2 linked regions of the Homo sapiens genome follow. The protein of the gene in region 2 interacts with the protein of the main gene of each other region in a pairwise test. Each region holds a gene or a part of one and is shown on either strand. Other genes may lie near its edges.

Region 1 (7,025 bases), on a different chromosome or scaffold from region 2:
GTTACAATAATATCAGATATTTAAGGCTAAAAGTAATTTACTATTTAAGAAAGGACATTTCATAATGATAAAAGAAAGGGTCGATTCAGTAGGAAAAAAAATCTTCCTAAATGAGTATACATTTAATAATATGGGTTCAAATGTATAAAGCAAAAGTTGCCAGAACTAAAACAGAGCTAGATAATTCACAATCCTTAACCACCGTGATCTAATTACATGTATAGTCAAGCCTTTCTTAGTGATAGGGATATGTTCTGAGAAATGAGTCATTAAGTGATTTCATCATTGTACAAACATCATAGAATGTACTTGCACAAACCTAGAAGGTGTAGGTTACCATACACTTGGGTTATATAGTTATAGTATAGCATGTTGCTCCTAGGCTACAAACCTGTACAGCATGTTACTGTGCTGAATACTGTACACAATTGTAACACAATGGTGTATTTGTGTATCTAAACATATCCAAAAATAGGAAATGTACAGTAAAAATATGGTATTATATGTATGGGGCCATCATTGTATATGTGGCCCATTGTTGACTGAAACATTGTTGTGCAGCACATGACTATATATGTGTAGAACACAGCACCTAAGTATGTATTATGTAAATACATATTCTTTTCAGTGCATCTGTAACATTAACCAAAATGAACCATATTGGACCATAAAGTAATTGTCACCAAATTTCAAGAGTTTGAAATTATGTAGAATATATATATATTTTCTTTGATGACTTGGAATGACATTAAAACCCAATGACAGAAAAATAATTAGAAATCACTGCATGTGGCCAGGTGCGGTGGCTCACGCCTGTGCTGAGGCGGGCGAATCACGAGGTCAAGAGATAGAGACCATCTGGCCAACATGGTGAAACCCCATCTCTACTAAAAATACAAAAATGAGCTGGGCATGGTGGTGCATGCCTGTAGTCCCAGCTACTCGGGAGTCGGAGGCAGGAGAATCGCTTGAACCCGGGAGGTGGAGATTGCAGTGAGCCAAGATCATACCACTGCACTCCAGCCTGGTGACAGAATGAGACACCGTCTCAAAAAAAAAAAAAAAGAAAAAGAAAAAGAAAAGAAATTACTACATGTTTGCAAATTGTCACACACTTCTATATAAACTGTGAGTCAAAGAAAATATAACAGTGGCAATTAGAAAATATTTGGAATGATAATAAAATGACTGGGTTGCAACCAGCATAGTGCTTAAAGGGAAAATTTCTATCTTTTGTTTGTTTGTTTTGGAGACAGGGTCTCCGTTACCCAGACTGGGTATAGTGGTGCAATCTTGGCTCACTGCAACGTCCACCTCCCAGGCTCTAGTGATCCTCTCCACCTCCGCCTCCCTGAGTAGCTGAGACTACAGGCGTGTGCCACTACGCTTGGCAAATTTTTTAAATTTTTTGTAGAGGCAGGGTCTCACTATATTGCTCAGGCTGGTCTTGAACTCATGGGCTTATGCAATCCTCCCACCTCAGCCTCCCAAAGTTCTGGGATTACAGGTGTGAGCCGCCACACCTGGCCAGAAATTTATATCTTTAAATGTATAGTTTGAAAAAAAAGTTGAAAATCAATTACTAAAACATCCAACTTTAGGGGCCAGAAAAAGGACAACAAACCCAAGGAGAGCAGGAAAGAAATAATAAAAATAAAAGCAGAAAACAGTGAACAATAAACAGACATACAGTAGGCAATATCAACAAAGCCAAACTGGTTTTTGGAAAATTAATTAAATGGATAAGCTGCTAGCATTACTGATCAAGAAAAGAGAGAGAGAAAAAAAATCAATACAGATTCCACAAGCATTAAAAAGATACTATGAAAAGACTATGAACAACTTGTGTGAATAAGTTTGAAATTTAGATAAAATTAGTTTCTTTAAAAAGAAAATGTACTAAAATTGACACAAGATGAACAGAAAATCTTAAAAGTTCTACTAAAATATTTACTAAAGAAGTTGAATCTGTAATTAAAAGCCTTTCCACAGATTAAACTCTCAGGTGGCTTTACTGGTGAATTTATTGTAAACATTTAAGAAAGAAATAGTGCCAATATTAAAAAATCATTCCAGAGAACAAAGAAGAAACACTTTCAAATCATTTTATAAGCTTTCAATAACACTGATATCAAAACATGACAAGAACACTAGAAGAAAATTGCAAGGCCCTCATGAACACATGCACAAACTCAGTATAAAATATTAGCAAGTAAAATCTAGAGGCATTTCAAAAGGGTAATACATCATGACCAAGTGGAATTTGTTCCAGAGTGTGAGGTTGGCTTAACATTAAAAAATCAATCATTGAAATTCACTACATTAATGAAGGGGAAAAACCGTTATCAAGTTCACATTATTTTCGGCAACATTTTAGAATAATTGACCCATATAAAATATGTGCAAAATATCTCCTAAAGAAGGAAAGAGACGCGTTGAAAATCAATATGACATTTTATGGATTTTTTAGTCTTGTGGTATAAAAATGGTTGTTACATCCCTGTTTATGTTTTAGATCATTGTGGTATAAGAGTGTCCTACCATTATTTTAAACAAAGTTCAGCTAATATTCCTTTTTATTCCAGAGAAAATCTTGTAGTTGACTAGTTTTATAGTTAATGATGTTCATTTGCATTAGTCTAAGTATTGTTTTCCCATTTTAAAGATAAGCTTCTCTCATGTAAGCTTTAGGAGGGCAAAGATCTTGGTTTTGTTCATTGTTATAGCCCAAGCACATAGTGTCTGTCACACAGTAGGTGCTCCCCAAAATTTAAACTTTGCTGAATGTTGAATGAGTAAATAAAATTCAGAAAGATTTAGTGACGTGCCCAAGCTAACATTATTTTGGCATTTCTCTCTTCCTCACCCTCAGATTCACCTCCTTTCTCTTCATCCCTATGCTGTTTTCTTAGTTCATAGTGTTGTCACTTCTCACTTTCAACAGCCACCCTCACCTTTAGCCTTTCTTCTAATCTGTTCCCCACATTATACCTTTGTCTCCTTTCTAAAGTGGGAATCATATCATGTCCTTCCCCTACTCATTTTTAGGGGCGACTTTAAAGGTAAAGCTCACCTGGGCTACATTCCGCGTACCTCTTTTCAGCCTCAACTCTCACTCATTTTCCTTAAGCCTTGCCCTACCATTCATGAGCTACTTGATGTTTCCTAATCTTAAATCTCCTTTCTCCTCTCCCTGCCCTTCCTTTCTACTCCCATTTTACCTGATTAATTCCATATCATCTCTCAAGACCTAATTATAGCCTTTTATGATTCCCATTCGTGCAACCTGGGTTAGGTGTCCCTCTTGTGTGATTGATTTCTTAGTATCCTGTGTATACCTCTACTCTAGTACCTATTGCACTATTTTATAATTCTCCATTTTCTAGATTGTCTCACTGCAAGCTCCTTGAGGATGGGGAATCATGTCTGGTTTACCTTTGTGTCCACTGTGTATCTCTCTGACACGGAACTTGACCTACAGCATCAGTGTCATCATCATAACTGACTTTTATGGAAAGCTTGCTATGGGCAAGCACTGTTCTAAACACTTTGCAAGTAGTAACTCATCTTAATCCTCATGACAATCTTAGAAGGCAGGTTCTATTATTATCTCCACTTTACCAATGAGAAATGGAGAGCTTAAAAGAAGCCTACTCAAGGTCACCCAGCAAAGAGGGAATAGAGCCAGAATTTAAATTTAGCAGAGCCTATGCTCTAAGTACTTCATAATAATGCTTCAACAGCATTTTCTGAATGGATGAATCCAAGACTTGAATTCGGAGTCTCCTGGCCTCAAGTCCAGTGATGCTCTGCCATCTCACATACATGACTCAGCTCCCTCTCCGCCTCAGTCTCTCCAGGCACACGGTCTTAGCTAGATGGTAGAAACTGTTCTTTGTATTTTCCCTTATTTCTTTTATTTGCCAGCTCCAAATATGGGATATTCATGTATATGTAGAAGTTACACTCATAGCTGGTCTGTTCTTGTATATTATTTCAAGTAGTCCTACTCAGAAACACTTTTTGTAGAGTTGGGGCACCTACTGAAGAAGAGGAAGAAAGTGAAAGTGAAGATAGTGAAGACAGTGGTGGGGAGGAAGAAGATGCAGAGGAGGAAGAGGAAGAGAAAGAGGAAAATGAATCTCACAAATGGTCAACCGGTGAAGAATACATCGCTGTTGGAGATTTTACTGCTCAGCAAGTTGGAGATCTTACATTTAAGGTAGGTAGAATAAGACTGAAACCTAACCTAAGGGTCGATGTCCATACCTAACAGAATAAGAAAACTCTGCCTGTACACCTGTATTACAGATTCTTAAAATGCAGTTTTATAACAATCTATTTAAATAAGTAATAATTACAATTTACAAGCAGTAGTAATATGAGATTGTGTTACTAAAGTTACCTCTTCTAAAGATTTTTGAAAGTAGCTTTAATGTTGAGAATTCCTAATTTAGGGGTAAAATTTTATAATTTGTTATTGAATGTCATGTATAAATTCATTCAAGTGAGTTAGGCAATGTCCATAGGTGGAGGTAGAAGGGAGCACTTCCTGCCATTTTGTAGCAGTCTTTCCTGTTAGCTTAGATATGAGAGGGGCTTACATCCATGCTTGGTTGGCCTGGGCATAAATAAGTGGCAGGTGGGACAGAACAATAAAGTTGTGATTTTTAAAGTTGTGATTTTGAGCCTGTGTTTTCTGCTAGAGAAATGAGCCAAAGAAATTTAAGTGAATATATGAATTTTAGTTCTTATATTAAACTTCAAAGTTTAGTAACTGATTAATAATAAAATACATAAGAATATTATGCAAATAATTATATGGTTTGATTTATAGATTTTTTTTTCAAATTCTCCTGGAAAATGGTATCAATATTAGACAATAATGTATATTTTAATTAAGTGTTTGCTTTTGTAGTGTCCTTAGTGGTGGAAATGCTTTTGTCTTCAAAGATGAATTTTATTTTTATAAATGAGTGAGTGTTATTCAAAACATATCTGGTGAATTAAGTGGGTAATTATATTCAGTAAATACTATTTTTGCTCAAAAATAGGGTTTAACTTTAATGGAATTGATATTCTTTGGGAATTTATATGCTGCTTCTGAAAGACACTTTTCCAGAGATATTAAAACATTCAAAAATATTTTACGCAGTAATTGAATTTTTGGAATAAGTATGGGGCCTTAAAAATGATTGTGAAAAATGGTTCCCATTTGCATAAATGGCTCAAGTGTATGTTAGGTAACCAAAAGGAATGATTCATTAAACTATGTCACATTTATGGTTTTAGGTGAGTTAGGCAGAATACATAGGGGTCGGGTGATAGGGAAGCTTTTGATAAACCTTAGGATAAATATTGGATTAAAAAAAGATTTTGCCTTTTTTTCAGCACATATTTTGAATCATTGGTATTGACATATACTCATGATTATTGAATTTTATTTAAAATGGTTTACTTTGTTTTGCTTTAAGAAAGGGGAAATTCTCCTTGTAATTGAAAAAAAACCTGATGGTTGGTGGATAGCTAAGGATGCCAAAGGAAATGAAGGTCTTGTTCCCAGAACCTACCTAGAGGTTAGTCTTGGTTTATGCCTTCCTTTTCTAAGACTTTTTTTTTTTTCGCTTTTAATAAAACATTTAGCTGTGTTCTTTTGTCAGTTGACTAGTGAATGACTTGAGATATAGAATTTGCTTTAATTTTGGAGGGACAGGACCTGGGAAAAACATTGTGTATTAATGGTCCTGGGGACCTGTGAAGTGCTCTTACGCATGTGAGCCCTGGAACGTGATCTCACAATGAGGGGATGCTTTGTGGATTAATGCTGATCATAACAAATAATAGGTGTCTATTGTTTATTGTAAAACATAACTGCAGTTAACTTTGTGTTAACTTCCACAAATATGTGATCCCCTTACTAAAATGTGAACATACTATACATGTGTGTTTGTAGCTTGTATTTTCTTATTTCATAAAATAACATGGTCATTTTCTGTGCCAAGATATATAGATTTCTGTCTGGATCAGCACTGTCCAGTAGAACTATGATGCAAACCACACATGTAATTTAAATTTTTCAGTAGCCACACTGAGATATCTTTTTGCTGATGCCACTTCTGACACCAAGTATGTGGTTTTTCTCTGACACCAAATATGTGTTATTACATCAGTTCTTCTACACCAACCGGTGTCAGCAATTCAATTCGATTCTGATGCTAATGCCTGGAGCTAGCACAGACCCCCACAGGTTAAAGGCTCAGTCCCACAAGATTGCTGCTCACTTCCGTTGCCAGTCACAAGTCCCAAGAGCCACCCATACTTCTGACTGACTGGCTATACATTCACGAGTTCCCATACCATCACCTCAGGGGTTCAGTAATTTACTAGAATGATTCACAGAACTCAGGAAAACACTTTCCTTGCATTTACCAGTTTATTATAAAGGATGCAACTCAGGAACAGCCATAGAGTGAGGTATTGGTTGGGGGTGGCTGGCATGCACTCTCTGGGCCTTCCACCTTCCCAGCACTTCGCTGTGTTCACCATCCTGGAAGTTCCTGGAACCCCATCATTTAGGGGTTTTTCTGAAGGTTTCATTAGCCATGTTTAACTAAATCATTAGCAATTGGTGATTAACTCAGTCTCCAGCTCCTCTCCCCTCTTTGAAGGTTGGAGGGTGGGGCTGAAAGTTCTAACCTCTAATACCTGGGTTGGTTTTTCTGGTAACCTGTCCCCTTCCTGAAGCTGTTTAGGTGCCCACCTAGAATTACCTCATTAACATAAACTCAGGAGTGACTGAAGGGGACTCTTGATGAGTAAGAAAACATACTCCTATCATTCAGGAAATTCCAAGGGTTTCAGGAGCTCTGTGCCAGGAATCAGTGACAAAGAACAAATACATGTTTTTCATTACACACATTTTTAAAAAGTAAAAAGAAACAGGTAGAATTATTTTTAATAATATATTTTATATTATCCAGTATATCAAAAATACTATTTTGACATATCAATATTTAAAAATATTG
Region 2 (7,848 bases):
TATAAATTTCTGTGGTACTTTGTTATGGCTGCCCCAGCAAACTAATACAAGCAAACTAATACAGAAAACTAATACAAGCAGTAAAGCCAACATCTGTTCTGATTGGTAAATGCACATCCTGTAAGGGATTTAAATATTTTGCATATCAGTCACATTTAGGCATTATATTATTCAAGAAATTCACTATTCATTATGTATTAAATGTGTCGAATACCCTAAATCTATTTTATTCCTAAACGGTTCAATTTATATACATACATATATATATACACACACACACACACATACACATATATGTGTATATATATTTATACATATATGTGTGTATATATACATATATGTGTGTATATATATACATATATGTGGATATATATTTATACATATATGTGTGTATATATGTTTATACATATATGTGTGTGTATATATATATATATACACACAATTTTTTTCATGGATACTCAGCCAATTTTTAGAATTATTACCATACTACCACTCTTAATTGTTTGCCTCTCCTAGGATAGCGGAGTGCCCTTGGTCTTGCACTCTCGACTAATGAGAGCTAAAGCAACATATCTGCTTTATTCAGTTTGAATGGGGCTCATTAATATGTTTAGTATATACTCAACTGCCTGCTGAACATCCCACTCCATACATCCCATTGCAACTAAACATCTTTTCCTCCATGCTTGCTCTTCCTGATTTTTTGTCGTTAACTGATTAGCCATTCTCCACCCAGTTACCTGAGCCAGAAACCTCGGCACCTTTCAAACTTCTTTTATAGTTTTAAAATAATTATAAACTTACAGAAAAATTGCAAGAATAGTATAAAGAACTTCTGCTTTCGCCCAAATTCCCTGTTAACATTTGCTTTATCATTTTCTTTATGTATATTATTTATGTTTATATTTATTTACAGTATTTATGTATACTTTTTTCCTGAACCATTTGAATAGGTTGCAGATATGAAGCCTCATCACCTTTAATACTTCAATATGTATTTTCTAAAACCAAAAATATCTATGTCACTATAGTCATCAAAATCAGGAAATTAATATTGTTAAAATACTACCATCTAATCCAGAGACCCCATTCAAATTGTTAGTTGTCCCAATAATATCCTTATAGCAAAAGGATTCAATTCAGAATCATGTATTCCACTTAATTGTCATGTATCTTAATTCTCCTTCAATCTAAAAACGTTCTTTAGTTGTTCCTTTGTCTTTCATGACCTTGATCTTTGAAGAGTACAGGTCTATTATTTTGTAGAATGTCCCTCAATTTGGGACATTTGGGTTGTCTGATTTTTTCCTCACGATTGATTCGGATTACACATTTTTGGCAGGAATGTCACAGAAGTGTATTCTAAGTGCCTCTAACCAGGACATACACGATGCTGATTTGTCTCATGACTGCTGATGGTAACTTCGCTCACCAGTGCCAGATTTCTACACTGTCAAGTTTTCTAATTTTTCTCTGTGTAATTAATAAGTATTTGCTGGAGAGATACTTTGAGACTATATAAATATTATATGTCTCTTAATACTCTCACCCTCTAGTTTTAGCATACACTGATGATTCTAGTCTGAATCAACTGTTACTATCATGACTGCCAAATAATGATGTTTCTACATATAACACTGTCTACATTCATTACATTTAGTTGGCATTTTTATGTAAGGCAGAGCTTTTCTTTATCCTGATTTTTCAAAAAAATCATTTATTCATTTTAGTATGGGCTCAAATATTCCTATTTTATTTAGCGGACTATAATCCATTAACATTATATTGGTGCTCAGATTGACCCAGATGTGGCCAGTGGTGGCTCCTTCAAGCTGGCTTCTGTGACCTTTTGATATGTTTCTTCATTCTGTATTAACTTCCTTAACTTCTGGTGCAACAAGAATTTTCCAGGCTCCTGTTCTAAAATCAACCATTTCTCCAAGGGACCCAGTTACTTTTAGTGAATAATACTGTTCAGAAACCAAGATCTAGGCACATGTGCTCATTGCTTCTAGTATACCATTACTCTGAAACCCTTTCAGCAGATAGAGCTAGGAAGAGCATAATAGATAGATACGCACACACATACAGACATACTTTCCTCTATATTTATTTTTACATATGTTTATGTATATATTGAAAACTATGAGTTGACACTGACATATTCAATTCCAATTCAACATCACCACAAAGGTCACTGTGGAATTCTTCCTCTCTCAATTTGTAACGTCCTTCTCTGTCAGTGAGAAACCTGGCTCCCATTAGACCCAACATATTTATTTCCTCACTCCCCTTTCATGCTTGCCACCTCTTTACTTGCCAAGGGGAAGGCAAAACAGCTGGTCATCGTTTTTTATTATTTCTTATCATTCACTCTTCCATCCAATCAATCACTAAGTCCTGACATTTTTACCTCCTAAAAATTTCTCAAATTGGTCCATTTCTCTCCATTCTGATTTTTCTTAGCCTTGACCATGCCACCTTTGTCTCTTACATGGCTTACAGCAACGGCATCTTAAATGGTATTCCCAGATCTAGATTTGCTTCCTTCCTGTCTGTTCTCCACCCTGCAGCCAGAGTTATCTTTATGATATTAAAATTTGAAAATTTCACTCCATAAAATTCTATAGTGGTATTCCACTGACCAATACTGTCTGGGTCTCTTCATAGCTTGTTTAACTCTCTTGTTTTGTCTCCTCCAAAAGCCCCTAGTCTCATTCTCTACCTTTTAGTTAGCCAACTTGAACTTTTTTTTTTTTTCTTCCAGTTCTTGTATTATACCAAACTTTCTTGTAGTGAACACTATACGCCACCTTCTTCTACCTGGAAACCCTTCCTAACCTGGACAACTCTACACATTATTTTGGTCTTTACTTAAATGTCACTTCTGCTATGAAATATTCCCTGACCTCCCCCACCCCACTGCACCTCTGCATGCTACTGTAAATGGAGAAGCAAGAGATGATAACAGGGTTACACATCCGCTAGTCTGGGGATTGTATTCTGAAACTAACACCCTACTAAGAATGAGCAGTCAGAGTTATAACTTCCCTTTGGAAAAGCAGGTACTTAAATGCAGTTGTGAGGACAGATGAAAAGTACATAAAACACCTACAATGCATACCTCCTAGAAGGAGCTCAATATATGTTATCCATTATTCATTCAACAAATGTTCATGAAATGCCAACTATTTCATAGACACTGTGGTAGATGCTGGGGATAGAGAAAATACAAAGTAAACTATGAAACTATAGAATGAGCATCCAAAGTCTAATATATAGAATGAGTATCCGAAGTCTAATAGGGAGTAGGAGTGTTTGAAGGAGTCAGTCAACCTGCTTAAGATTCAAAGGATGGACAACATTTGGCTGTGATGCAGGAGTGTAAAAGGAGGAATTTTCAGGAAGAGAGGACAATATGAGTAAGGACGGGGCGTGAAAGGCTATGGATTGTTTTTCATGGTACACATAATTCAATGTTGCATAAAACTGCATGGTACACATGATTCAATATTGCATAAAATTGGAACAAGAAGCTAACGAGAGATGAAACTAGTCAGGGAGATGGAGAATCTTGTATCCTAGGCAAAGTAATCATTTTCTCTTACAGATTGCCTTTCAAAAATTTTCAGCAGGAGAGTGCCATTATCCGATTTACATTTTTAGTCAGGTCATTCTGATAGCAGTGTGGAGAATTTAAGAGTCAAACTGGAGTCAGAGAACTGGTAAAGGGCCCATCTGAGGAAGTTAAAAAGAGAGAATGGATATGCTTTGGCATAAGATGCATTTAGGATACTCTACTGTTCTTACTAAAACACTGGGAGGATTGTGGTGGCTTACAGCAAGATAGAAATCTAGGAGAGTATGTTTAGAACGGAAAGTTGAACAGCTCAGTTCGGTACGCATTGGATTAGTAATCTTTCTCGTTGCTTCCTCACAGGATTTAGGGAAGCACAAGACATATAGTTTGTAAGGTGTGGCAATGTCAGTAAGAATGGAAAAGCTGGCCTCCATAAACTCTTACTGTACAAATGAAGCAACAGCTTACAGCGGGTGGCTGTAGGTACAGGAAATGGCCTGTATTCACGAGTGTATTCACGAGTCCACGAGTAGCGCATCTAGTATTTTTCCAGCCCTGGTGACTCAGAGCTGAAGATGGCGCCTGTGGCAGAAATCAGAAAAGTGGGAGGGAGCATTAGGTGTAGAAAAGGATGGCGTTTTAACTTTTGTTTTGTTTTTCACACACAGGGAGATAGCTCTAAAGGAACAGTGGATAATTTTTTCTTAAAATTTTGTCTGTAGTACAACTTCATTTTCCACGCCTTAAAACCATGTTTTCTTTTGTGGGCGCGATCGCGTGGGGAGTGACAAATCTGTTTCTTTGCCTCATTCATTCATTTTCTTATTCTGGGCGGCTTCCATGACAGCCTCCCCAGTTTTCCTTTGCCCAGTCAGTTTTTCCCTGCGCTAGCTACAATTCTAAGGCGAAAAGAGCATTTTCGGAGGTGAGGGCGGGGAAAACTCAAGACTCTGTAGGGGCACCCGCGCATTTCCGGGTCCCTTACCGCTCCGAGTGGAGGAGACTGTTCCCGCTCGCGTGGCCGGGGAGGCGGGAGCCCCCTAAGTTCCCTGAAGCTCGCGCCCGCCTGCGGCCTGAGGGCCCCCGGGCAGGCGCCGCACGGCCCCTCCTCCTGGAAGAAGGCGGTGGAGGCGCGGGGACGGGGCCGCGGTCTTCGCCTAGAGCGCGGGACGCATCGGTCGCCATGGGAACGGCGGCGTAGGCAGGCGCTGACGTCAGCAGGCGGCGCGCTGTCCGCACTGCGGCACAGAGCCGCGGCTTGCTTTCAGGACACGGGTCGCTGGCGGGTTAGGTGGCTGCGTGGCCGCCTCACTTCGCGCACGCGCCGCTAGGCTGGGGGAGTTGATTTGCACTGCTCCGGGTGTCGGCTCCGGCGGGACGGGCGGTTCTGCGTACCCCTCTCCGTGAGTACATCATGGGTGCGCTGGTGGCGGGAGCGCGGGCCGGGGTGCTCGGCCTGCCCGGCCCTCTCCTGGGCGGCGTGTCGGGGCTGCTGGAGTCCGAGAGCGCGGAGGCTGATAGCGTAGTGACCGACGAGCGTGGGCCGGGTGTCCCGGGGGAATGCGATTTCTGAGAGTCCTCACCGTACTTTTGCGCTTCTTTCACTGGTCTCCGTGTCCCCGGAGAGTTGAGCATGGTGCTCTGATAGAGAATTCAATCTTTGCCTTTCCTACTCCCGATTCTTATTTAAATGCTTTTAAATCAGATGTGTACTGAGTGTGTTTATTTCCTTTTAGAGTGTCAACCTGGGGCTGAATCTTCAACCTGTCAAAGCCTTCTTAATTATGTCTGAGAAAAGGTGATCAATTTGTTATATTTATAAGAGCCAAATTATATTAATAGGGTTGTTTCGAGATGCATAAAAATAGAACAAAAATGTAGACCATTTAAGAATCCTTATCAAAGGTTGTGCTGCGTTTAGCATTCCTGTAAAAACATCTATTGTGAAAATAAAGCTTTCCCCTTTCTTTTGAGAAAGAGATGCCAACGATTTTTTCACCTGTTGCATTAACAGTTGCTGTTACTGCTTGGGCGTTAGGAGGAAGATTGCTTCTTATGAGTACTCTGGGAAATTTTTTAAAGAATGCTTGAAAGAAATTCAAATACCAAAAGTGTTTTTAAACCATACCTAGAATCTTGTTTATGAGGAATAATATTTATGAAGTTAGAATCTTGTTTACTTATGAAGAATCTTGTTGATTTATTCATTGAATTTTGTATACAGGATTTTTGTTTGTCTTTTTTTCCCTTGCGATAACATTTGGTTAAGGAGCGAATTATCAAGCCTCTCAGTTTTTTCTCCCAATGATATTGAGCCACATATTGGCTGATAATCAGGTTGTCTGTAAAATAAAATGAGATGAAATGTAATCCATTTAATTTTCCTGTGTAATATCTCTTAGACGCTCCTGTGAAAGGGTTTGTGAGGGAGAAGTTGTAAAATAATGGAATATATAAGAATCAGAGGTGTCTTTTAAAGTCCTATCTGATTTTTTGCAGAGGTTACTAATCAAATATTAGCCGTTAATTCTATCATGTTTGCTGTAGTACATATTAAGATTTAGAGATGGCTGAGCGCAGTGGGTCACGCCTGTAATCCTAGCACTTTGGGAGGCTAAAGTGGGTGGATCACTTGAGGTCAGGAGTTCAGTATCAGCCTGGCCAATGTTGGTGAAACCCCATCTCTACTAAAAATACAAAAATTAGCTGGGTGTGATGGCCCACACCTGTAGTCCCAGCTACCAGGGAGGCTGAGGCAGGTGAATTGCTTGAACCCAGGAGGCGGAGGCAGCAGTGAGCTGAGATTGTGCCACTGCACTCCAACCTGGGCAACAGAGCGAGACTCTGTCTCCAAAAAAAAAAAATTAGAGATGATTTCTGTACTGTATTTGCTGTGTTATCATTACATAATATTAGTATTTATTAGTTTAGTTGTGTATTAAGCTGTTAATAGTAAATAAGTATATGATTTATATATTTTATTTGTAATTATTTACTTATTTTTAATACAATAATAATGGACATAAAGTAATTTTATTGCAATGTACTGATTACTTTGCTTTTTGGTATTTTCTCTTCTCCTTACAGTACTAAAATAGGTGCCATTTTAAATTCCCAGACAAGGAAAAACCAAGGATTAGAAATTAAGTAGCTTGCCCAAGGCCACACATCAGTAAGTGGTGACACTAGAGCTCAAGCCTGAGTCTTTTTTACTCGCTTTGCTTTTGCTTCTCTTCACTTCGCTTCTCTCTTCTTCTCCTCTCTTTTCTTTCATAGTGGCAGATACATAACTATAAGAGAGCATTGGCTTGGTCCTCCAAAGCTAGCAGTTTGGTGGGAGTTACAGAACATTTTACCAGGGTGAAAATTCAAGGTTGAGGTAGAGGGAGCTACAAAGATTAAGGCACCCTGGAAGCACAGAAGAGAAGTTCTTAAATGCCCTTCAAGGTGAGAATGCTCTCTAGAGAAGATATCATTTGCCTTTAAAGGATAGTGAGGAGTTTGTTAGAGAGACAAAGGAGGAAGCACATTTTTCAGGGGAGGGGATATGTGTGTAATGATACAAAAGCAAGAGAGAACTTGGCACACGTGAAGGCCTGCAGGTAGTTTCACATGTCTGGAACACAGTGGATGTGTGAAGGGGACATTTCATAAATGGCCTTGGACCTCACTGGTAAGGACTTGATATTTTTTTCAATGTGCGATTGGGAGCTAGTGAAGAATTTTAAGCGAAGAAACGACACCATCACATTTGAATTTTAGAAAATTACACTAGTTGCTGTGTAGATGATGATTTTTTTTTTAAGGGAAAGGTGATAGCGGCGTGGAAACAATCTTAAAACAAAAAGCATAATCCTTCCACAGTGTTTTTGTCCCTCAGAGTTACTGTCTCATGTCACTGCCTTTGGGGGTGATGGGAAGACAGTTGGAAGAATTCTGTAAAGAATTGTCTACATGTCCCTTCTACAGGTGTCACCTTCCATTCATTCCTTAGCCCCAGCCTGCTAAGTTTCTGCCCCTCTATAAACAGCTTTGACACACGTGACTTCCTACTTGCAGATTCAGTGGACTTTCTTCAAAACCTCCAGCCCCTTTTGATGCCACACAGTATATAGGCAACATCTCCTTTAAAACTTGGGTTTGCTTCTGTAATGCTTCTATCTCCCAGTTTTTCACCTATCTCCCTGATTTTACTTTATATTGTAGGCTCACAGGATTCTCATTGGCTTTTTATTTTCTTGGAACTATCATATTTATAAATAACTCCC

Evidence for each region. The genes of interacting proteins can lie anywhere in the genome.
Region 1: the proteins of AHI1 (region 2) and NPHP1 interact in binary tests that used the Homo sapiens proteins (3 or more experiments, as listed by UniProt).

Annotation. Positions count from the first base shown.
Region 1 is NC_000002.12:110,167,003-110,174,027, reverse strand, and holds part of NPHP1 (nephrocystin-1), read left to right. Parts: intron 1-4,029; coding exon 4,030-4,222; intron 4,223-5,474; coding exon 5,475-5,576; intron 5,577-7,025. UniProt on the Homo sapiens protein: Together with BCAR1 it may play a role in the control of epithelial cell polarity. Involved in the organization of apical junctions in kidney cells together with NPHP4 and RPGRIP1L/NPHP8. Does not seem to be strictly required for ciliogenesis.
Region 2 is NC_000006.12:135,494,718-135,502,565, reverse strand, and holds the start of AHI1 (jouberin), read left to right. Parts: upstream 1-4,825; 5' UTR 4,826-4,983; intron 4,984-5,316; 5' UTR 5,317-5,378; intron 5,379-6,667; 5' UTR 6,668-6,752; intron 6,753-6,856; exon of another isoform or gene 6,857-7,027; intron 7,028-7,848. UniProt on the Homo sapiens protein: Involved in vesicle trafficking and required for ciliogenesis, formation of primary non-motile cilium, and recruitment of RAB8A to the basal body of primary cilium.